Homo sapiens: one gene and its partners. The protein of the gene in region 6 binds, or shares a complex with, the protein of the main gene of each other region. Each region holds a gene or a part of one and is shown on either strand. Other genes may lie near its edges. The genes, in order: PRPF31, SNRPF, SNRNP40, LSM4, SNRPD3, PPIH and PRPF3.

Region 1 (3,500 bases), on a different chromosome or scaffold from region 6:
TGTGTTCCAGTAGCAGTGCCTGACCTAAAGGGTCGCAGAAAAGACCACAAAAAAAACCCCACACAGGGCTGGGGGGTGGGGCCAGGAAGTGCCTGCCCAGCCTTGGCCATCAGTGCTATTGTTCTCCCCATCCCTGGGGGAGGCCAGGCAGGGCACAGGGCCGTGAGCCTGAGGTAACTCGCCACAGTTGGACAGAGCAGGGTCTGGACCCAGGCCTGTCTGTCCCAGAACCTGTCTTGCTTGTTTTTTTTTTTTTTTGAGACAGAGTCTCACTCTGTCACCCAGGCTGGAGGGCAGTGGTATGATCTTAGCTCACTGCAACCTCCACCTCCTGGGTTCAAGCGATTCTCCTGCCTCAGCCTCCCAAGTAGCTGGGATTATAAGTGTGTGCCACTATACCCAGCTAGTTTTTTGTATTTTTGGTAGAGATGGGGTTTCACCATGTTGGCCAGGCTGGTCTCGAACACCTGACCTCAGGTGATCTGCCCGCCTCGGCCTCCCAAAGTGCTGGGATGACAGGCACGAGCCACTGCGCCCCGCCAGGCTAGCGGGCCTGTGTGTGTGCTGTCAGGCGTCGATGCTGGGATGGTGATGTGTCCCGACTGCAGGGAGAGGACCCGGGAAGCTCCGAGGTTGGTGACCTCTCCTGCCCCTCCTGTGTGTCTCTCCCCATGGCTGATGTGCAGCCCTCAGTGGATTCTGTGAGTCTTTCTAGTGAATGGTCAAACCTGAGGGTGGTCTTCGGAGCAGTTGCACGCTAACCCGACGCTGCTTGTCGTGAGCTAGGCCTGAACTGTAAGTGCTTCATGTGCACTGAGCCCTCGTCCCAACTCATGAAGCAGGCGCTGTGCTCCCATTTGATAGGGGAGGAGACTGAGGCACAGGGCGCTCATGCCTCTTGCCCACAGTCACCTGACTGGTGGGTGCTGGAGCTGGTCTGCTGCAGAGCCCTGGCTCTCACGTCCCATGCCACCCTGTTCCCAGCTCCTGAGTGCTACCGTCAGCTGGGCCAGATGGTGGGTGGCTGCTCAGGCTGTCTGGGCACAGCGGAAGGCTCCAGGGGGGCCGGGGGAGGGGCCATGACGCAGTGGGCTCACCGGTGGCAGGGACTGCACGATGTCACTGTGGTAGATGTAGCCGGTGTGGGGCAGCACTGAGGTAGACGAGAAGCCCGACAGCGTCTTGCGCTGGGCCCCGAGCAGCATGATGTTGCAGGCGGGCATCTTGGAGAGGTTGGTCAGGCCGCCGGCCACACCTGCGGTGGGAGGGAGGGAGGAAGGGGGGGCGGTCAGAAGAAAGCAGAGAGGTGGGGGTGAGTAAATCTGCCTGGGGGCTCGACGTGTGCTGGGCACCTTTACATGAAGTTCTGGTTGGATTCCTCGATGGCCCTGCCAGGCGGGCGACCTGGCCCATTCCGCAAGGGGCAGATGCAAAGGAGGCTCAGAGAGGGAGGGCAGCTGGCCTGGGGGTGCAGGGAGGAGGCCCCCAACAGGAAGCTGACCACCACGTTTGTGCTAAGCCACACTAACGCCGTTCCAGGGATGGCTGTGTTTTGGAACCATTTTCACCAAACCAGGAGCTCCCTGACAACAGGGCCTGGGTGTGGTCATCTCTGGGTTTCCGGCACAGGGGAGGGAGAAGGAGCTGTGGGTGAGTGTTTTTCCCACAGATGAGGCTTTGCTGTGTGCCAGGCTGGCTGACCTCTGTGATGTCCAGGGAGACGGGGTGCTGAGGTCCAGGTGCCAAAGCCCCCATTCTACAGAAAAGGATGTAGCTTTCCCAAGGTCACAGTGTCAGCAGACCCCCGCTCCATGGGACCCAGCCCGGGGACTCACCCATGATCTTGGCGGCCGTGGATGCCCCGATAATGATGGACAGGTTGGGTGCGATGAAGGACATCCGGGACTCCACATACTCGTAGATGCGGTGCTTGGAGGCGTTCAGCTCCAGCGCCATGTCGCAGGCCTCCTCCAGCCGCTCCAGCTCCTCCTCCGACAGCTGCTGCCTGCAGGGGCGGGTGGGCCCAGCCTCCTGGGTCTCCCGCCTGCCTGGTGTGCCCAGCCCCAGCCCTCTCGGTTCTGTGTGTGTGTGTGCATGTGTGTATGTGTGTGTGCGTGTGTACACCTGCGTGTGTAGCTCCAGCCTAATCCCCAATCCCATTAGGGCCCGGCGCCTCCCTCGAAGCGGACATACCCCTGGGTGGTGGAGGCGGTGACGCTGACGACCATGATGGTGGCATTGGTGAGGATCTGCTGCAGGTTCTCATTGTTCTTGCACTTGTCCAGGCTGTTGCCCAGCTCCTGGGGGCGAGCAGAGAAGATAGGGGAGGCTCGGGAACTCAGGAAGGCTCGAGAACCTCTCTTGCTCAGCACCTCCTCAGGTCTCTTCTTAGGGACACTGGGACAGTCAGGGTCTCTGCACTGGGGGCCTCTCCTGCCTCCACCGCCTGAAGCATCCACACCATTCCTGCCTCCACCACGTCAAGCATCCACACCATCTGCCCTGCTTTCGCTGACCTGGAAACGGAGCCCGGGCAGAGTGGCGTCTGGAAAGACTGTGGCCTCACAAGCCTCTGGCCTGCGTCAAGTCGGAGTGCAAATCCGCGGCCTCGCTTCCCTGCAGGGGCTTCCCCACCGCCATCCTAATCCTTTCCTGGACATGCGTGGGGACCTCCTCCTCTCCCCGCCCTCACGCACACCTGCCCCTCTTTTCCGAAACCCTTCCTTGGCTTTCTCCTAAGACCCAAAGGCTGGACGTGATCCGACCTCTTCCCCGTCCCCTCCTTCCCCGCCTCACTTCCTCCCCACTTGTTCCCTCTCCAGCTCTCTGCACTTAGACGTCTCTCTCCCCCAAATCTCCGTGTGCCTGCCCTGTGTCAACCTTCGGATGTCAACTCCAATGCCACCGGCTCCAACCACAGCGGGAGCAGCGTGGGTCAGGCCAGCGGGGAAGCCCTCTCGGGAGACTGGGGTTGGAGGGGAGCCCTGAGAAAGTCCTGTCCAGGCTCCGTCCCTCCCACGCTGGGCAGAGCAGACCACTGAGCCCTCGTCCACTCCTCTCCATCGTCTCCAGACCCTCAGGCCTCTGGGAGGGGGTCCGAGAGTGAGCCCCGCCTGCCCCTTCACGCCAGCAGAAGCACCCCACCTTCTCTGCGCTCACCTTGACCGTGCGGATGTAATCCAGTGCATTGGGGACCAAGGACTCCAGTTCAGGGAATCTCTTTGAGTACTTATCCCGGATGAACTTATGGATGATGTCTAGGGTAAACGGGACAGGAGGTTGTCGGGTGAGATGGAAGGTAGACTCTGCTGGTTGGCCCTAACACCCATGTCCCCTTCTTCCTTTAGTAACTGAAGCCCTGGCTTGTGGCCTGGCACACGGGCACCAGCATACAGCCTTTCTCAGCCGTCCTTACCGCTAGGTGTGACCAGGGGAATTAGTTCTGGTCTGTAAAACGTGAGCTGCAGTGACATGTTCTTAAAGAAAAGAAGCGCCTTGCT
Region 2 (2,344 bases), on a different chromosome or scaffold from region 6:
GAGGTTTCCTTCACAATTAGGCACGTGGAAAAGGAAAAGAAAAATAGGGCTTAACAATAAGGATTAAAATAGGATGTTTCATAAGGCATGAAAAACATGGTAATGAACACTACTACTGGATGTTACTCCCTTTCTTATAGACAACAAAAAGTAATCTCCATTATCCAGATGATATAGTTTTGTCTGAAATATACGAGGTTGTTGAGACAGTTTGTATGTAACAGCTATAAGAAATAATGTATTAAGAGCAACTAATTTTTTGTAAAAAGTAATTACAACATTTAACATTTCTAAATTACACAATAATGTTCCAAATACTTTCTATCATGTTCTTCACCATCACTTAACAGGCTCTCTATGGCCGCCATTTTAACCTAACTTTCTGTCATTCGTCCCTTAACTCAATCTGCTCTGGCCTTTTTGCTGTGCCTTGAACACACCAAGCATGCTTCTGCCACAGGGCCTTTGTACTTGCTGTTCCCTCAAACTGGGATGCTTTTCCCCAGATACTCAACTGAGTTGTACACTAATTCTGGTATCTTCCAGAATTCGCCTCCTCAGAGAGGCTACTCTATATAATATTGCACATACTGTCTTCCCCCTTTTCTTCATGGATGGCATCTATCATGCCTATTATCACATTATATTACCACCTCCCACCACTAAACCATAAACTGTTGAGGGCAGGGACTTTGTTTTGTTCAATGCTATATTCACAGTGCCAGGCACATAATGGAATTCAATAAATATTTGCTGAGTGAACAAATTCAAACACTGGTATCAATATGGTTGACTACTCAAAGTGGTTGGTTACTCAGACATTTTGCAACTCTAGCAGGGTCACTAGCAAGCTATATTAATTCTAAAACAAATATTAAGTGGTAATTCTTTTATTATTGAGATGTTAATTTCCATAGCATAAAATTCACCCTTTTAAAGTGTACAATTCAGTGGTTTTCAGTATATTCAAAAACCTGTGCAACTATCACCACTACTTCCAGAATATTTTCATCACAATTCATATACTTCCCAGATTTTTCTATGGTCTTGGTAAATGACTCCTGTTTAAGGAATTTTCCACACTCAAACTATGCTTTGGGGGCCTTAATGTCATGTGCTCAGGTGGTAATTGCCTAAGTTAAGGAAAATCATAGCTCTCTGCCTACTTAAGTACTCCTTTTAGTACTCTGCTTACAAGTATGGAATCCTTGGATTCATGATTGGATTGACCACCTGTCTTGATAGCCTTTAAAAACCTGCCTGGAAACTACTACCATTAAAAAAACAACAAAAAATCCCAAACTAATTTTTTAAATGTGCAAAAGACATGAACAGGCATTTCTCCAAAGATAAACAAATGGCCAATAAACACATGAAAAGGTGCTCAACATCATTAGCCAAATGCAAATCAAAACCACAATAAGATACCACTTCACACCCATTAGAATAACTATTTTATAAACACCCATAGAAAATAACAAGTGTTGGTGAGGATGTGGAGAAACTGGAACCGTTGTGCATTGCTGGTGGGTATGTAAAACCACGTAGCTGCTGTGGAAAATAGTGTGACAGTTACTCAAAAGAAAAAAAAAAATTTCTCTGTCATCCAGGCTAGAGTGCAGTGATCACAGCTCACTGCAGCTTCAACCTCCCCAGGCTCAGGTAATCCTCCCAACTCAGCTTCCTGAGTAGCTGGGAATATAGCTGCCCACACCATCATGCCTAGCTAGTTTTTGTATTTTTTTTGTAGAGATGCAGTTTCACTATGTTGCCCAGGCTGGTCTCAAACTCCTGGGCTCAAGCAATCTGCTGCCTCAGCCTCCCAAAGTGCTGGGATTACAGGCATGAGCCACCACGCTTGGCCTCCTTAAAAAATTAAACATAGAATTACCAGTAATCCAGTAATTCCACTTCTGGGTATATACCCCAAAGAGCTGAAAGCAGTGACTGGAACAGACATTCGTATACCCATGTTCACAGCAGCATTATTTACTACAGTCCAAAGAGGGAAGCAACCCAGTGTCCACCAAGAGGCAAATGGATTAGAATGTGGTATATCCATATAATGGAATATTATTCAGTCATAAAAAGGAAATTCTGACACATGCTACAACATGGATGAACCTTGAATAATACACTACGTTAAGTCAAACAAGCCAGACACAAAAGGATAATACACAATTCCACTTACATGAGGTATTATGCACGGTCAAATTCATAGACATGTAGACTAGTGGTTACCAGGGGTTAGTTAGGTGGAGGAAGGAATGGAAAATTATTGTTTAATGTTTAATTGTAAAATTATTGTTTAATGGAAAATTATTGTTTAATGGGCAAAAAATTT
Region 3 (3,500 bases), about 11 Mb from region 6:
GGGCAGGGCAGTACATTGTAGGGAGTAGTCAGAGAGTGAGGAAGGCATCCATACAACACAGGGTAGGTAACCAGTGTGGGGAATTTGAGGGTGAGGGAGGGGCAGCAGCCCAACAGTGCCCTAATGGGGTGAAAGGGTCGCCTGTACGTGAAGCAGTACGGGGAGAATGTGGATGTCAAAGCCTGAACTGAGGGCATCCACACAGGGTAGAAATGATTTGGTGTAGGGAGTCTGAGACTGAGCAAGATGATGACTGCATGCTTGGAGAAGTGCAGACTGGAAAAGAGCCGTAGCAGAGTGATGAGGGTGTTCACACAGAGGAATGACCCAAGTTGGTTAAGGAAGAGTCACACATGGCTTCAACCAAGAATGGGAATCACAATTCAAGTAGGGAAGGGTGGAAGAGAATATGGGAAACTGGTTGCATGCAGGAAGCATAATCAAATAAGTGAATATATTGAATTTAATGGGAGGCTGATTTCTCTGTCCAAGAACAGAGTTACCAGTACAAAAGAGAAGACTAAAATGAATCTTGTGTGAGGTATAAGTGTGAACTCACAATATTCAATATAGAAACATATAGAAAAAAATAGACATAAATGTGTGAGTGTGTGTGTGTGTGTACCTAAATGTACATATATTGCCTGACTGTCCACTGAAAAGGTTTAGGAGCAACAAGACCCCAATAGCAATAGCACCCCTTACTGCACAGGTACTGTTTTCCATTAAAAGGAACCAGGGCTCCTATTTCAGCCCAGGGGCAGTGAAAGTACAAGATAAGCCTTGTACTTGTCAAGGCTTATTTTGTCAAAAGAACATCCTAACTAAATTATCAAATCGACCTAATTAGTAATGGGACAAGACAAAATCATGAACCATTTGCTAGGATACAACAAAGATGCAGCATCATTTCTGTGATATTCCTACCAAAGATGTATAACTTAAATCTAATCAAGAGGAAACATAAGACAAACCTAAATTGGGGATGATGACCTGTAACTTTCAGAAGTGTTGAGTTCATAAAACTCAAGGAAAGTTTGAGAGAGTCTTGCAGACTGGAGTCTAAATTTAACATATGATTCCAGACTGAATCCTTGTGCAATAAGACATTTGGGATAACTGGTAAAACTTGAGTGGGATTTGAGGATAAAATGGTGATAGTGTATCTGTATTTCTTGATTTTGATGGTTATGTTGAGATGATGTAGGAGAACATCTTTGTAGGACAGACACTATTTAGGAGTGATAAGGGGCCAGGTGCAGTGGCTTATGCCTGTAATCCTAGCACTTTGGGAGGCCTAGGCAGGTGGATCACTTGAGGTCGGGAGTTTGAAACCAGCCTGGCCAACTTGAAGAAACCCTGTCTCTACTAAAAATACAAAAAAGCCGGGCATGGTGGCAGATGCCTGTAATACCAGCTACTCAGGAGGCTGAGGAAGAATTGCTTGAACCCGGGAGGTGGAGGTTGCAGTGAGCGGAGATCACGCCACTGCACTCCAGAATGAGCAACAGACAGAGTGAGACTCCCATCTCAAAAAAAAAAAAAAGGTGATAAGGCATTGGGTAAGCAACTTACTCTCAAATGATTTAGACCAAAAAAAGTGTTCTTTTTACTTCCAAGTTTTCTATAAATTTATGATTGCTTCAAAGTAAAATAATTATTAAAAGTGGTAGTTATCTGGAACTAAAATTCTAAATTATTTTAAACAAACTTTGACTACCATGACTTTTAGGAGAAAGACAAAGATAGATTTGACCTGAGTGAAGTATCTATTGAGACAAAGATTATAGTACAGTTTATAAAATATATAGGATCTAAATTATTAAGGCCTTGAATTCCAGGTTAAGAAGTTTGGACTTGATTCTGTAACCACAGGAGTTGGGGGAGTAGGAGATGTTGGGCATGTAGGAGAGGAGTGAAGCGTTCTTTTTAGACCATTTATCTGAGTAATGAACTAATTTTTAGTTCGTATTTACATGAACAAAGAAGAAACTACTTTTCATCCTAAACCATGAGAATTGGGAGGAAGAGGCATCTTGGCACAGATCCTACTCAGACTCTCCTTGTTGACTACAGGATTGAAGTTAAGCCTATGACCTTCCCTAAAGTTCCATGGCTGATTCCTTTCTTTTTGATGCCAGCCCTTTAAAACTTGGAACAGTCATCCCAAAGTCTCTTTCTTCTGAATGAAACGACCCATACTTTTAAATCATTTACTTGTGGTTCATCTTCTCAAGTGTGTCATTCATTTATTGAAACATCTCTGAGCCCTCTCTGTGTTATCCACGCTTTAAAAAAGTAGAGCTATAAGGGTTTGTTTGTTTAAGAGATGGGGTCTTGGCCGGGTGCAGTGGCTCACGCCTGTAATCCCACCACTTTGGGAGGCCAAGGTGGGTGGATCACCTGAGGTCAGGAGTTCGAGACCAGCCTGGCCAACATGGTGAAACCCCCGTCTCTTCTAAAAATAGAAAAATTAGCTGGGCGTGGTGGCGCATGCCTGTAATCCCAGCTATCCAGGAGGCTAAAGCAGGAGAATTGCTGGAACACGGAAGCAGAGGTTGCAGTGAGCCGAGATGCCGCCACTCTCACCCAGGCTGGAGTACAGATCCGCAATCACGGCTCACTGCAGCCTCAACCTCTCTGGCCCAAGCGATCCTCCCATCTCAGCCTCCCAAGTAGCTGGGACTATAGGCATATACCACCACACCCAACTTTTTGTTTTTATTTTGTAGAGATGAGGAATCACCATGTTGCTCAGGCTGGTCGCTAACTCTGGGCTAAAGCCATCCTCCTGGCCTCGGCCTCCGAAAGTGCTGGGGTTACAGGCATGAGCCACCATACCTGGCCCTCTAAGAATTTTATAGTTTTAGCTCTTACATTTAGGTCCTTGATCCATGTTGAATTAATTTTTGTGTATCATGTTAGGCAGGGGCTTACCTTCATTCTTTGGCATGTGGTTAGCCAGTTGTCTTAGCACAATTTGTTGAGAAGACTACTTTTTCCTTCTATATGGACCATAGTTACTTGCTTCTTTGCATGCCTTATATTTTGTTGAAAACTAGGCATTTAAATATTATAGCGTGGTGACTCTGGAAATTAGGTCCCCAGAGCTGCTTATTGTAGTTGTTTGTTTAGTGACTTTCTGTGGGTTGGGGTAAGGTGAGAGTGGTTGGTTGGTTGGTTTTTGAGACGAAGTCTCGCTCTGTAGCCCAGGCTGGAGTGCAGTAGTGCGATCTTGGCTCACTGCAACCTCCACTCCCCGGGTTCAAGTGATTCTTGCACCTCAGCTTCCTGAGTAGCTGGGGTTACAGGGGCACACCACCATGACCAGCTAATTTTTGTATTTTTAGTAGAAACAAGGTTTTACCATGTTAGCCACGCTGGTCTTGAACTCCTGACCTCAAGTGATCCATCCACCTCGGCCTCCCAAAATGCTGGGATTACAGGTGTAAGCCACCATGCCCGGCCTGTTTAGTGAATTTTTGAACTAATTTTGTAAA
Region 4 (3,500 bases), on a different chromosome or scaffold from region 6:
CTGGAGTTTGCGACTAGCCTGGCCAACATGGTGAAACCCCGCCTTTATTAAAAATACAAAAATTTGCTGGGTGTGGTGACGCATGCCTGTTGTCCCCAGCTGCTTGGGAGGCTGAGGCAAGCTGCTTGTGAGGCTTGAACACGGGAGGTGGAGGTTGCAGTGAGCCATGATCATGCCACTGCACTCCAGCCTGGGTGACAGAGCGAGACTCCGTCTCAAAAAAAAAAAAAAAAAAAAAATTGACCAGAGTGTTCAGCACCAAGAGCAGGTGGTGGCCACCTACGGGAGTAGGGAGGGTGTGTGAGGCTTTTCTTCCTAATCTGAGAGGCAGGTGTGTGTTCCAGGGCTGGGCAGAGTGAGGAAATGGCATTTCCAGTGGGGGGTGATTGACACGCACTCCTGTGCCCCCTCAACCGCACCGCACCATCTATGAGTCATGGGTGGGACTCAAGACCAGAGCTCCCAGGCGCTGGTCAAACAGACAAATCATGTGGCTTTATTTGCCTTTCAGCTTCCCTTGTCACTGCTGAAGACGGCTCAGAATCACCCCATGGTGAGTACTCAGTGGTCTGGGAAAGCCTGTTTGAGAGGGGGCCAGCCTCAGCACAGGGGCGGTGGCTGAGCAGACGGCTTCCTGGCCTGCCTGTCCACCAGCATGGCAGTTTGCTCTCTTCTCCCTCCCCAGGAGTGTCCACACTCCTGTCATTTCTGCTGCTTGTAAGAGTAATACATACATACTTACTAAAAATTTAATGGGCCAGTTGCAGTGGCTCGCGCCTGTAATCCCAGCACTTTGGGAGGCCAAGACAGGAGGATCGCTTGAGCTCAGGAGTTCGAGATCAGCCTGGGCAAGAAGAAAAACTTAAAATTAGCCAGATGAGGTGGTGTGTGCCTATAGTCACAGCTACTCAGGAGACTGAGGCAAGAGGATCGACTGATCCCAGGAGTTTGAGGCTGCAGTGAGCTATGATCATACCACTGCGCTCCAGTCTGAGCGACAGAGTGAAACCTTGTCTCTAGAAAAAGAAAATTAATGAGGTGGAAGGATCACTTGAGCCCAGGAGTTCAAATCCAACCTGGGCAATATAGCAAGACCCTGTCACTTAAAAAAATAAAAAGAACTTCAGGTTGGGCATGGTGGCTCAGGCCTATAATTCCAGCACTTTGGGAGGCTGAGGCTAGAGGATGGCTTCAGCCCAGGAGTTCAGAGACCAGTCTAGGCAACATGGAGAAACCACGTCTCTCCATAAAATATAAAAATTAGCTGGGTGTAGTGGCGTGCACCTGTAGTTCCAGTTAGTTGGGAGCCTAAGGCAGGAGGATCACCTGAGCCTGAGGCGTTTGAGGTTGCAGGTCGCTGGGTGACAGTGAAACCCTGTCTCCAAAAAATGATAATATTGGCCGGGCGTGGTGGCTCTATGCCTGTAATCCCAGCACTTTGGGAGGCCGAGGCGGGCAGATCAGGAGATCGAGACCATCCTGGCTAACACGGTGAAACCCCGTCTCTACTAAAAATACAAAAAAATTAGCCGGGCGTGATGGCGGGCACCTGCAGTCCCAGCTACTTGGAAGGCAGAGGCAGGAGAATGGCGTGAACCCGGGAGGCGGAGCTTGCAGTGAGCTGAGATCGCGCCACTGCACTCCAGCCTGGGTGACAGAGCGAGACTCCATCTCAAAAAAAAAAGGATAATATTACATACTAACACTTCAGTTAAAGTGCACAATTTAGTGGCATTTGGTGCAGTCACAGGTTGTGTAACCACCACCTTTATCTAGGCCGGAACATTTCCGTCTCCACAAAAGGAAAGCCCATTTCCATCAGCAGTCACTTCCCAGCCCCAGTCCCTGATGAGCATGAGGCAGCTGCCGTCTCTGTGGGGTTGCCTATTCCGGATATTTCCCATGCATGCGAACGGAGACCATGAGGCCTTTCGAGCCTGGTGGTTGTCACTCAGCAACGTGTTTTTGAGGTTCATCCACCCTGTGGCCTGTGTCAGTGCCTCATTCCTTATAGCCAGACGATACTCCGTGGAGCGGATACTTACCACTTTTTTTTTTTTGAGAGGGAGTCTAGCTCTGTCGCCCAGCCTGGAGTGATCTGGGCTCACTGCAAGCTCCGCCTCCTGGTTTCACGCCATTTTCCTGCCTCAGCCTCCTGAGGAGCTGGGACTACAGGTACACGCCACCACGCCTGGCTAATTTTTTTTGTATTTTTTTTTTAGTAGAGACGGGGTTTCACTGTGTTAGCCAGGATGGTCTCGATCTCATGACCTCGTGATCCGCCCGCCTCGGCCTCCCAAAGTGCTGGGATTACAGGCTCACGCCCGGCCTACATTTTGTTTATGTGTTTGTCTGCTGATAGGCATCTGGGCTCTTTCCCCTTTTTGGCTATTGCGAACAGTGTCACTGTGAACATTCACGCACACATTTTTGTATGGTTGCCTGTGTTCATTTCTCTTGGGCAGATGCCTAAGTTGAGTCATTTAAAAATCTCAGCCCTGGTGGGAGGCCAAGGCGGGTGGATCACCTGAGGTCAGGAGTTCAAGACCAGCCTGGCCAACATGGTGAAATCCCCGTCTCTACTAAAAAATTAGCTGGGCGTGATGGCAGGCGCCTGTAATCCCAGCTACTTGGGAGGTTGAGGCAGGAGAATCACTTGAACCCGGGAGGCAGAAGTTGCAGTGAGCTGAGATCACACCATTGCACTCCAGTCTGAGCAACAACAGAGAAACTTCCATCTCAAAAGAAAATCTCAGGCTTGGACTGAGTGTGGTGGCTAATGCCTATAATCCCAGCACCCCGGGAGGCCAAGACAGGAGGATCACTTGAGCCCAGGAGTTTGGGACCAGTCTGGGCAACAGTGAGACCCCACTTCTACAAAAGGAAAAGAAATTAACCACATGTGGTAGTGTGCGCTTATAGTCTCAGCTACTAGGGAAACTGAGGTGGGAGGATGGCTTGAGCCCAGGAGGTTGAGGCTGTAGTGAGCCATGATCACGATACTGCACTCCAGCCTGGGCAACAGAGCAAGACCCTGTCTCATAAAAGACACCAAAAAATATCAGTCTTTTCCTAACAGCAGCATATCCTCAGAATGATCTGCTACTTATCTTTGTTCTCAAAACATACCAAAATAGATGAGTAATTATTGCAGTAAAAAACAGCATTTGTGGAACACTGAAGCCCAAATATCTGGTGTTGTGGGGGTGCCTGCCAGGACCAGCCCAGCTGTGCCCACCTGGCCCCCAGCCACCCTGGATCAGTGGCCACCATCACCATTGTCTCACTTATTCCTTTAAACATTTCTGTGTTTCTTAGTTTTTTGTTTTTTTAAGACCAAGTGGCACTCTGTTGCTCAGGCTGGAGTGCAGTGGTGCGATCTCAGCTCACTGCAACCTCCCCCTATCTCAACTCACTGCAACCTCCGCCTCCTGGGTTCAAACAGTTCTCCTGCCTCAGGCTCCCGAGTAGCTGGGACTACAGGCATGCACCACCATGCC
Region 5 (3,500 bases), on a different chromosome or scaffold from region 6:
GCGCCACTGCACTCCAGCCTGGGCGACAGAGCAAGACTCCATCTCCAAAAATAAAAAATATATTATCTGGATGTGATGGCTTATGCCTGTAGTCCCAGCTACTCCATAGGCTGAGGCAAAAAGGATCACTTGAGCCCACCCAGCAGTTCAGGCTGCATTAAGCTCTGGTCGCACCACTGCACTCCAGCCTGGGTGACAGAGCAAGACCCTATCTCTAAAATTAAAAAAATTCTATGGCAGGATAAAAGTAGATGCATAGATCATGGTGCAGGTAAGCTGGGGTAGAATGTAAAATGAAGCCAAGCAGTCAGTATCCAGAAATGTAAACCTGAATCTCTCTGTACATTGAATAAAGGTATATTCCAGTGTAAGATTAAGCAGGGAAGATCATCAGTTCCAAAATGCATAGTGTTCTTAAGTTAAAATAGCAATTGTGTGGATTTCCCTGGCACTCAGATACAGGAGACACTATTAGATGATATCCTCGACAACATCCCCATACAAAATACCCTTTTATGGTCCCTCAAGTAGTTTTAAAGTATCCTGTTATCTTAGCACTGTTTTTGACATTTGAAAATGCAAAATATGGCCAGGCACATTGGCTCATGCCTGTAATCCCAGCACTTTGGGAGGCTGGGCCAGGGGGATCACTTGATCCCAAGAGTTTGGGACCACCCTGGGCAACACAGTGAGACCCTGTCTCATATATGTGTGTGTGTGTGTGTGTGTGTGTGTGTGTGTGTGTATGTGTGTATGTATGTATATATGTATGTATATATATGTGTGTGTGTGTGTATATATATATATATTTTTTTTTTTAAAGGAAGAAGAGGAAATATGTGTATGTGAAACTCAGGATGAGGTCCCTGAAATGGTGCTTATCGGGTCAGAGGGTGTGCATCTGAGGTTAAGCTGGGAAGGCAGGGAGCTTTTGTTCTCCTTCTCATTCCGACAGCTGCAAGCCAAGCACTGGTGGCCAGTGCTGCAGGATAGGGCATCAGCTGCAGGATATGGCATGTTGGTCAAAATGCTGTTGGCATAAGTGAGAAAAATAACAATACTCCAAAATATGTCCCCAGTTTTATAAAAATGGACCCAAATTATAAATGATACAAGCAAATACAGAGAGTAATGGTCAAACCCATTTCACTACATTCAAAATGACTTAATTCTTAGAAGTTTTGGTGGGAGAATGTGGTGTAGAGCTCTGCACAAGCAGACATTGTGCTTTTGGGGCTTCAACATGACCACCCAATCACTGATGGGACTGTTTGAAATCTGTTTTGTTGGCTTTGGCATATAATAGCCATCTTTGGAAAACTGGTCTCTGTATGGAATATGGTCTTGTGTCACTGTATAAAAATGAGAACCCAAAAGAAGCTCTCACATGATTGGGTCAGAAAATTGCCCATAACTATTGCTAGGAAAGTTTTTGAAATCTCTGAATTCAATGTAATTGAATTTCTTTAGACACCTAGCCCTCTAGGTTGAAGGAAAACCAGTTTTTTAAACTTATCGTATACTTTTTTTTTCCTGTACTGTTTGTGTGTGGATTGCATTCATCATGCTCCTCTACCCCATAATACTTTTGTATTTCCTAAGAACAAAGATAGGTAGATGGCCTTAGTTGGTATTCGTATTATAGCAGTGGCATCCAAGCACCTCTGCCTTTGTGTATGTGTGAAATTGTCCTAAAGAATGCATTTCTGGTGTATTGACAGGCCTGAGACACCCCAACACACCTTCACAGTCCTGGAGCTAGCTTTCTCCATCTTGGCCCCAGGTATCTAAGAAAGTCCCACCACTTTGTGCTACAAAGATTCTCTCTCTCCCCCTCAGGATGTCATTTCAGTTGGGTACCTGGCTTATACCATATGTGTTTCATTGTGGCTGTTGAGGAAAGTTGATTAAACTGGGTGTTCCTGCCTGGAGTTGATTAGGATCTGGTTCACTCAAAAGTTGCTGCCTTGGGCTTGTGATACAAACACAGGTCAGGCTTATTAGCAAGCTCTAGCAGGCATGTGTGCAGTGAGACTGTGGGGTTTTGTCCACAGCAAGCTGTTCTTAGCCAGTGCTACAGGGAAAGCGAGAGCAGTAGTGAGCCTGGTTGTTAGGGTTAAAATAGGAGTCAGAGGACACTGGACTCTCCTGCTTCAGCCAGGACATAGTTCATTTATGGAAATGCCTAGATTAAGTCTTGTCGGACTTATGCAACAGCTTCTGTCAGGAAAGGAGTGAGATGTGCCCCTGTGCTGGAGGGAGTGTGGCTTAGCAGTGGCACAGCTCCCAAAACACATTTTAGCTGTCAATCAGATTTAGCATGTACTGAGTCTCTATTATGTATTAGGCAATAGAGACAGCATTTAGACATACTTTGCCTTGTTCATTTTTTTTTTTTTTTTTTTGACAGGGTCTTACTCTGTTGCCCAGGCTGGAATGCAGTGTCATAATCATAGCTCACTGCAGCCTTGAACTCCTGGGCTCCAGCCATCCTCCCACCTCAGCCTCCCAAGTAGCTGGGACCACAGGCATGCACCACCACACCTGGCTAATTGTTAAAAATTTTTGTAGAGATAGGATCTTGTTACATTTCCCAGGCTGGTCTCAAACTCCTGACCTCAAGCAGTCCTCCCACCTTGGCCTCCCAAAGTGCTGGGATTACAGACATGAACCACTGTACCTGGCCTGATTTGCTTTTTAACAATTTCAGGAAATGTGCAGTGGTTAAGAGTGTGAGTTAGAAAGAACTGGGTTCAAACTCCAGCCAGGCCATGTAAGCGTGGTGTGACCTCAAGCAGGAGAATAGAGGGAAAGGGCATGGGTTTCTGGGGACAGATCTGCCTCTGAATGGCTATGTCACTTCATCTCTTTACCTTGTAGGATTTTGTGGGGTAACATGAGCTGCCGTGGGGAAATCACCTGGGCCAGCACTTGATGTCTAATAAGTGCTCAGTAACTGTTGGCTTTGTTGTCTTGTATTTTCAAAACTCAGCTTTGTAGTTGAGGGAACGGAGGCTCAGGGAAGCCTGGAGATATACCTAGGGTTACACTTCTGACAAATGGCAGAGCTGGATCTCACCTATAGGTCTTTAGGCCTATTTTGTGTCTTCTACAGAGTCATGAGTGTGGCACAGTCCCCAAAACACGTTTTTTGTTTGTTTGGTTTGTTTTTTGTTTTTTGAGACGGCGTCTTGCTCTGTTGCCCAGGCTGGAATACAGTGGCGTGATTTTGGCTCACTGCAACCTCTACCTCCCGGGTTCAAGTGATTCTCCTGCCTCAGCCTCCCGAGTAGGTGGGACTACAGGCACCTGCCACCACACCCGGCTAATTTTTGTATTTTTAGTAGAGCCAGGGTTTCACCGTGTTTGCCAGACTGGTCTCAGGTGATCCACCCACCTCGGCCTCCCAAAGTGCTGGGATTACAGGCATGAGCCACCGCGCCCAGCCCCAAAACACATTTTAATTGTCAGTCAGATTCAGGTGAGCCTGAGTTGTATCC
Region 6 (3,500 bases):
GCCCAGGCTAGAGTGCAGTGGCGCGATCTCGGCTCACTGCAGACTCTGCCTCCCAGGTTCAAGCAATTCTCCTGCCTCAGCCTCCCGAGTAGCTGGGATTACAGGTGCCCACCACCGCACCCAGCTAATTTTTGTATTTTTTAGTAGAGACAGGGTTTCACCATCTTGGCCAGGCTGGTCTCAAACTCCTGACCTCATGATCCATCCGCCTCGGACTCCCAAAGTGCTGGGATTACAGGCATAAGCCACCATGCCTGGCCGGGCAGTATTTCTTATACTTTAACGTTCATACGGATCTCCAGGAGATTTGTTATAAAATAGTGGTTCTGACTCAGTGGGTTTGGATGGGGACTGAGATTTTGCATTTCTAATCAGCTCTCAGGTGATGCTGATGCAGACTGTGAGGCAAGTCAATAGGGGATAAGAGTCTATCTTTTAATTGAGAACTTGCCATATTCCAAAAAAAAAAAGACCAAGAGGAAGTACTCTCTTGGTGGCACTAGTCCAGCAGGAATCCATTGCATTCACATCAAGGTATCACCTAATCCTGCATTTGAGGCCTTGTGCCCAGGCACTGGACATATGCAGTGAAACAGCTAAGAAGGAGATAGAAGACGGGTCACTTGATCAATTCTACCTCCCTATGGAGCACTTCTTTCCAGAACCTTTGTGTTTTGCCTTCCTAGGTTCTGACTTTGGTTTTAGTGAAAATGAAGTTTTGTGTACAATTTTTTTTTTTTTTAAGACAGAATCTCACTCCGTTGCCCAGGCTGGAGTGCAGTGGCACGATCTCAGCTCACTGCAACCTCCGCCTCCCAGGTTCAAGCGATTCTCATGCCTCAGCCTCCCGAATAGCAGGGATCACAGGCATGCTCCACCACGTCTGGCTAATTTTTTTGTATTTTTAGTAGAGACAGGGTTTCACCAAGTTAGCCAGGCTCGTCTCAAACTCCTGATCTCATGTGATCTGCCCGCCTTGACTTCCCAAAGTACTGGGATTACAGGCGTGAGCCACCATGCCTGGTCTGTACAACTTTAGTTATAGAAACCTTGGTTTTATCTCAGTGAGTTCTGGGAGAGTTTTTTTTTTTAGACAGGGTCTTACTCTGTCACCCAGGCTGGAGTGCAGTGGCGCAGTCACAGCTCACTGCAGCCTCGACCTCCCTGGCTCAAGTGTTCCTCCCACCTCAGCCTCCTTAGTAGGTGGGATTATAGGCGTGCAGCACCACACCCAGCTAACTTTTTAGAGATGGGGTTTCACCATGTTGTCCAGGCCGGTCTCAAACTCCTGGCTTCAAGCGATCTTCCCACCTCAGCCTCCCAAAGTGCTGGAATTACAGGCATGAACCACCGTGCCCAGCCCTTGGAAAACTTTTTATGATGAATTTGGTTATGTATAGCATAAATGAACCTCTACACTCAGGATTCTCCTGCTGTAGTCTGAATGGGTTGTTTGCTACTTACATGGACATGGGAGAGGGTGGCACCTCTCTTTTGAAAGCCCGAGTTCTGGCAGCTCTGCTAGTCTGATATGCTTACCCTCTTCCCTGTGATCCTCAAACCTGGTACCAGTACCAAATGGTAGAGAGCTTTCCTTAATTCATTGTTGCCTAGATTCTCCAACAGGTAATAATCATTTTGGGGCACTCGTTAAACCTACGAATTCCTAGATCCCTTCCCTGGAGTATTTGATTGAGTGGCTTTGGGGTGGGACCAGGATGTTATGTTTGTAACAAGTATCTCACATGCTTCTTAATAGAGAAGTGTGGGAAACACTACTTTAGTTAGTGGTGGGATGACTGTCTTTTATTTTAATATTTGGATCTTAGGAAAAAATACGGAATTAGCACAATACATCATTTTACAGTTATTACAGCTTATAGTGAGGCAATATTGAAGTTCAAATAGTGATTAGCTTAAAAAATAAATTGTACCTGTGGATGATAGATATTGTAACAGTTGTGAAGATGCTATTTGAATGACTAAGGTTTAGGAAACACTGTGTTTCATTCTAGAATTACCTATAGATGCGAGACATTCCCGTAGGGGAAGATTAGGAAATATGTGTTGGTGGCAGTTGGGCTGGTCCTCTATTCATTCCACAACTAAGCGCTGATGAATTAAGATAGTTCCCATGCTGCATATGAGGCTACAGATTTGAAAAGTCAGTTCCATCCTTCAAGGAACTCAGTCTCTTGGGAGAACTGACAATTACAGTACAATAAAGCCCTGTATTGGAGGTTTTAGAACAAGGTGAGGAAAGCATAAATGCCCGGATCTTCCCAGAGTGGTTGAGTAGACTACAGAAGAGATGATGCTTCAGTTTAGTACAAGAAAGAATATAACTTGTCAGGTGGCTAAAACTGGGCAGGGCATTCCAGGCAGAGGGAACAGCCTATGCAAAGTCACAAAGGCAGGAAACAGCAGGAAGTGTAGAGGAAGCTGCAAATAATTCAATATGACTGAAGCAGGAAGATATGAAAAGCAAATGGTGAGAAGGTTGGAGAGAGGCCAGGGCCAGTAGTGAAAGCCAGTGCCAAGTTTAGCAGTTCATATGTTATTCTGAGGGCAGAGGCTGACTTTCAGGCATGAAGTAATTTTTCCCTTTTGGGGAAGGAGTCCACTGTGCTCCTGAGATTCTCAAAAGGGGCACTGACCCTCCAAAAAAGAATCAGGCCAATATGAACCACTTAAGGATTTTCAGCAGAATACTGTAGATGAATTTTCATGTTCAGAAGATGATTCTAGCAGCATTGTGGAGGATGGGCTGGAGGCCAGTGAGGAGTCTACTGCAGTAGTAGTCCAGGCAAGAGAAAAGAGGTTTTACATGAAAATATGGGTCTGGGGAACACTGGAGATTTGGCAGCAAATATTTATGTGCCTGCTGGGCATGTGACACTGTATGTTCCCTGTCCTGAAACTCAGAAGCTCTGCCAGCTGAAAAGGCCAGGAGTGGAGAGAATGTCTGGCTCCAGTCCATTCCAGTCCAGTACAAAGGCAAAGCTGCTTGCATTGCAGCCAAGTCTTACACACGTAGAGGTTCCATTCTCTTCAGTGGAATACTATACAGCCTTAACAAAATAAAGAGGTAGATCTGGATGTGTTGGCAAGATTTCTAAGGTAAGTTAAGTGACAGTCAAGATGTAGTAATTTATGTAAGCATGTTACTGTTTATTTTGAATGACTTTCAGGAATCTCTGCAGTGATATATAGCAGACTGTGGATAATACTTCTGCAGAGTAGAGATAGCAAAGAGACTTTTCAGTTGCCTTATTTAAGCTTGAATTTTCTACCTTGAACATGTATCTTGTAATAGAAATACATACTGTTTATATGTAGTGTTAACTAATCCTAAATCCTCCCAGCACTTCCCAGGAGCCTGCCCACAGCTGTGGCTAACATCAGGTGTGAATCCATTGCTGATCCCTCCACCTCCTCTTCCAGGTCTAAGCCCAGACAGTGGGTGCTCCCACAGCACTTGGTTCATCTCTCCACTGTGG
Region 7 (3,500 bases), about 110 Mb from region 6:
CTCTGTCACCCAGGCTGGAGTGCAGTGGCACGATCTCAGCTCACTGCAACCTCCACCTCCCGGGTTCAAGAGATTCTCCTTGAATTCTCCTTGAATCTCAGCCCCTCAAGTAGCTGGGACTACAGGTGTGTGCCACCATGCCCATCTGCTTTTTGTATTTTTGATAGAGACAGGGTTTTGCCATGTTGGCCAGGCTGGTCTCGAACTCCTGACCTCAGGTGATCCGCCCACCTTAGCCTCCCAAAGTGCTGGGATTACAGGCGTGAGCCACTGCACCTGGCCAAGCTCCTGCATTTGTAAGTGATGTATCATATATATAGGCTGTTTTTAGCTTTTGGGGTTAATGTAGGATAACCAGGGACACAATCTACAAAAGCAAAGTCTAGAATTCTTTTTGCTCTGTTACACATTGTTGCCTGTTTTTAGCATTATTTTCCTTAATTACATTCTTTTGCTACGTATTATAGGTGTTTACATTTCCTAAAGATCTCATTGTGATAGAGCAAGGATTATTAGTTGGTAGGTGAGATAATAGTAAATATAGCATATAAGGCTGGGCTCGGTGGCTGACACCTGTTATTCCAGCACTTTGGGAGGCTGAGGGCTGAAGGATTGCTTGAGCCCAGGAGTTAAAGACCAGCTTGGGCAATATGGTGAGACCTCGTTTCTACAAAGATTAAAAAAAAAAAAAAAGTAGCTGGGCATGGTGGCTTGTGCCTGTAGTCCTGGCTACCCAGGAGGCTGATGTGAGAGAATCACTTGAGCCCAGGAGGGTCTGTGCTGCAGTCAGCTATGATCATGACCACTGCACTCTATCCTGGACAACAGGGTGAAACTCTGTCTCAAAAAAAAAAAGGATATAAGACACATTTGAAGAGCTTTAAATATATCTGCTCCATCCATTTTTTTTTTTTTTTTCCTGAGACGGAGTTTCGCTCTTGTTGCCCAGGCTGGAGTGCAGTGGAGCAATCTTGGTTCACCACAGCCTCCGCCTCCTGGGTTCAAGTGATTCTCCTGCCTCAGCCTCCCAAGTAGCTGAGATTATAGGCATGCACCACCACGCCTGGCTAATTTTTGGTGTTTTTAGTAGAGACGAGGTTTCTCCATGTTGGTCAGGCTGGTCCCAAATTCCCGACCTCAGGTGATCCACCCGCCTCAGCCTCCCAAAGGGCTGGGATTACAGGCATGAGCCACCACGCCTGGCGTTTTTTTTTTTTTTTTTTTTTTTTAAGACAGAGTCTCACTCTGTTGCACAATCTCGGCTCGCTGCAACCTCTGTCTCCTGGGTTGAAGCAGTTCTTCTAGCTCAGCCTCATAAGTATCCGGGACTACAGGCAAATACCACCACACCTGGCCAGTTTTTATATTTTTAGTAGACAAGAGTTTCACTATTTGGCCAAACTGGTCTCAAACTCCTGACCTCAGGTGATCCACCTGCCTTCATCTCCCAAAGTGCTGGGATTATAGGCATAAGCCACATCACCTGGCCCTGCTCCATCATTCTGATACATGGCTTTAGTAGATTTTGTCTTAGCCTTTCGTTGCCCCTTCTTTGTCAGCCACTGTTCCAGGGACTTATTGTCACTAATGAGAGAACATAGCGTCTGTCAGCTGTGGCATGGTAGAAAAAAGGTTGAGAATGATTGCTGTGGAGAGTGTGTTCAACCATAGAGGGACTCAGTTTTCTCATCATGAAAATTATGTGTAATTTAACTATATATTTTAGGTACCTAAATGCTATTTTAGGTATATCAAGCACAAGAACCCATTATAGAGAGTGGGTTTTTTCATTGTATTTCTGAGACTCCTCTCTTAGAATCATCTCTACCCGCATATCGTGTTTTCTTTTCTTCCTACAATTTTAGTACAGAGGAAAATCCCAAGAGAGAAGATTATTTTGGAATCACAAATCTTGTTGAACATCCAGCCCAGCTCAATCCTCCAGGTAATGTATAGATTCCTGAATCAAGTCTCTAGAGCAGCATTACCCATTGGAAATTTATACAGTGAGGAACATGTTCTGTATCTATGCTGTTCAATACAATAGCCACTACCCATGTGTAATTCTTTTTTTTAATTCAGTTTTTTTCCTGACAATAGTTTGTTGTTTGACCAGTGAACATACATTTTAAGTGCATATTCCTGTGCTTAGAATTTCATGAGACAGCCAAGCATGGTGGCTCATGCCTCTAATCCAAACACTTTCGGAGGCCAAGGCAGGAGGATTGCTTGAGGCCAAGAATTCAAGACCAGTCTGGGCAACACAGTGAGACCCATCTCAAGGAAAAAAAATTTGGCTGGGTATGGTGGCTTATGCCTGTAATCACTGCACTTTGGGAGGCTGAGGTGGGCAGATTGCTTGAGCTCAGGAGTTCGAGATCTAGGCAACATGGCAAAACCCCATCTCTACAAAAAATAAAAAATCAGCCGGGCATGGTGGTGTGCATCTGTAGTCCCAGCCTCTTGGGAGGCTGAGGTGTGGAGGATGGCTTGAGCCTGGGAGGTGGAAGTTGCAGTGAGCTGAGATGGTGCTGCTGCACTCCAGCCTGGATGATACTGCCAGACCTTGTCTCAAAAAAAAAAAAAAAAAAAAAAGAAGAAAGAAAGAAAGAAAAAAACCCAAAATTTCATGAAGCTTTACATTTACAGTTCCCTGGTTGTTCCTAGGAAAGAGCCCTCAGCTTGCTCCTTTTATAGAACCACATGTTGTTGTGGCATCCACAGCTAAATGCAAATGCAAGAGCCAAACTCTTGGGTTGGTGTGTTATTAGATGCGATATGCTCCACTACCCACTGTGAGGGATGCTAATTCCAAAGGGCTTTTTGTTAGTTTCCCAAAGTTGAAACTGGGAAACAAAGTTGCTTCTATTTTTTTTTTTTTTTTTTTTTTGAGGAGGAGTTTCGCTCTTGTGGTCCAGGCTGCAGTGCAACGGCATGATCTCAGCTCACCACAACCTCTGCCTCCTGGGTTCAAGCAATTCTCCTGCCTCAGCCTCCTGAGTAGCTGGGATTACAGGCATGTGCCACCACGCCCAGCTAATTTTGTATTTTTAGTAGAGACAGGGTTTCACCATGTTTGGTCAGGCTGGTCTTGAACTCCTGACCTCAGGTGATCTGCCAGCCTTGGCCTCCCAAAGTGCTGGGATTATAGGTGTGAGCCACCGCGCCCGGCCTTTTTTTTTTTTTTGAGTTGGAGTTTCGCTTTTGTCACCCAGGCTGGAGTGCAATGGCACTATCTCCGTTCACTGCAACTTTCACCCCCCTGGGTTGAAGCTATTCTCCGGCCTTAGCCTCCGGAGTAGCTTGGATTATAGGTGCCTGCCACCACACCTGGCTAGTTTTTGAACTTTTAGTAGAGACAGGGTTTTGCCATGTTGGTCATGCTTGTCTTGAACTCCTGACCTCAAGTGATCTGCCCACCTAGGCTTCCCAAAGTGCTGGGTTTACCGGCGTGAGCCACCGCACCTGGCCCTAATTTTGTTTTCTACATTTGCCAGGTA

What was found.
Region 1: PPIH (region 6) and PRPF31 share a complex: the UniProt entries of both Homo sapiens proteins name them as parts of the U4/U6-U5 tri-snRNP complex.
Region 2: PPIH (region 6) and SNRPF share a complex: the UniProt entries of both Homo sapiens proteins name them as parts of the U4/U6-U5 tri-snRNP complex.
Region 3: PPIH (region 6) and SNRNP40 share a complex: the UniProt entries of both Homo sapiens proteins name them as parts of the U4/U6-U5 tri-snRNP complex.
Region 4: PPIH (region 6) and LSM4 share a complex: the UniProt entries of both Homo sapiens proteins name them as parts of the U4/U6-U5 tri-snRNP complex.
Region 5: PPIH (region 6) and SNRPD3 share a complex: the UniProt entries of both Homo sapiens proteins name them as parts of the U4/U6-U5 tri-snRNP complex.
Region 7: PPIH (region 6) and PRPF3 share a complex: the UniProt entries of both Homo sapiens proteins name them as parts of the U4/U6-U5 tri-snRNP complex.

Annotation. Positions count from the first base shown.
Region 1 is NC_000019.10:54,122,254-54,125,753, reverse strand, and holds part of PRPF31 (U4/U6 small nuclear ribonucleoprotein Prp31), read right to left. Parts: exon of another isoform or gene 3,348-3,500; intron 3,263-3,347; exon of another isoform or gene 3,258-3,262; coding exon 3,160-3,257; exon of another isoform or gene 3,112-3,159; intron 2,301-3,111; coding exon 2,194-2,300; intron 2,006-2,193; coding exon 1,836-2,005; intron 1,256-1,835; coding exon 1,098-1,255; intron 1-1,097. UniProt on the Homo sapiens protein: Involved in pre-mRNA splicing as component of the spliceosome. Required for the assembly of the U4/U5/U6 tri-snRNP complex, one of the building blocks of the spliceosome.
Region 2 is NC_000012.12:95,861,952-95,864,295, reverse strand, and holds part of SNRPF (small nuclear ribonucleoprotein F), read right to left. Parts: intron 1-2,344. UniProt on the Homo sapiens protein: Plays a role in pre-mRNA splicing as a core component of the spliceosomal U1, U2, U4 and U5 small nuclear ribonucleoproteins (snRNPs), the building blocks of the spliceosome.
Region 3 is NC_000001.11:31,283,289-31,286,788, reverse strand, and holds part of SNRNP40 (U5 small nuclear ribonucleoprotein 40 kDa protein), read left to right. Parts: intron 1-3,500. UniProt on the Homo sapiens protein: Required for pre-mRNA splicing as component of the activated spliceosome. Component of the U5 small nuclear ribonucleoprotein (snRNP) complex and the U4/U6-U5 tri-snRNP complex, building blocks of the spliceosome.
Region 4 is NC_000019.10:18,313,077-18,316,576, reverse strand, and holds part of LSM4 (U6 snRNA-associated Sm-like protein LSm4), read left to right. Parts: exon of another isoform or gene 1-511; coding exon 512-553; exon of another isoform or gene 554-908; intron 909-3,500. UniProt on the Homo sapiens protein: Plays a role in pre-mRNA splicing as component of the U4/U6-U5 tri-snRNP complex that is involved in spliceosome assembly, and as component of the precatalytic spliceosome (spliceosome B complex).
Region 5 is NC_000022.11:24,562,499-24,565,998, forward strand, and holds part of SNRPD3 (small nuclear ribonucleoprotein Sm D3), read left to right. Parts: intron 1-3,500. UniProt on the Homo sapiens protein: Plays a role in pre-mRNA splicing as a core component of the spliceosomal U1, U2, U4 and U5 small nuclear ribonucleoproteins (snRNPs), the building blocks of the spliceosome.
Region 6 is NC_000001.11:42,671,923-42,675,422, forward strand, and holds part of PPIH (peptidyl-prolyl cis-trans isomerase H), read left to right. Parts: intron 1-3,365; exon of another isoform or gene 3,366-3,500. UniProt on the Homo sapiens protein: PPIase that catalyzes the cis-trans isomerization of proline imidic peptide bonds in oligopeptides and may therefore assist protein folding. Participates in pre-mRNA splicing.
Region 7 is NC_000001.11:150,338,533-150,342,032, forward strand, and holds part of PRPF3 (U4/U6 small nuclear ribonucleoprotein Prp3), read left to right. Parts: intron 1-1,865; coding exon 1,866-1,945; intron 1,946-3,497; coding exon of another isoform or gene 3,498-3,500. UniProt on the Homo sapiens protein: Plays a role in pre-mRNA splicing as component of the U4/U6-U5 tri-snRNP complex that is involved in spliceosome assembly, and as component of the precatalytic spliceosome (spliceosome B complex).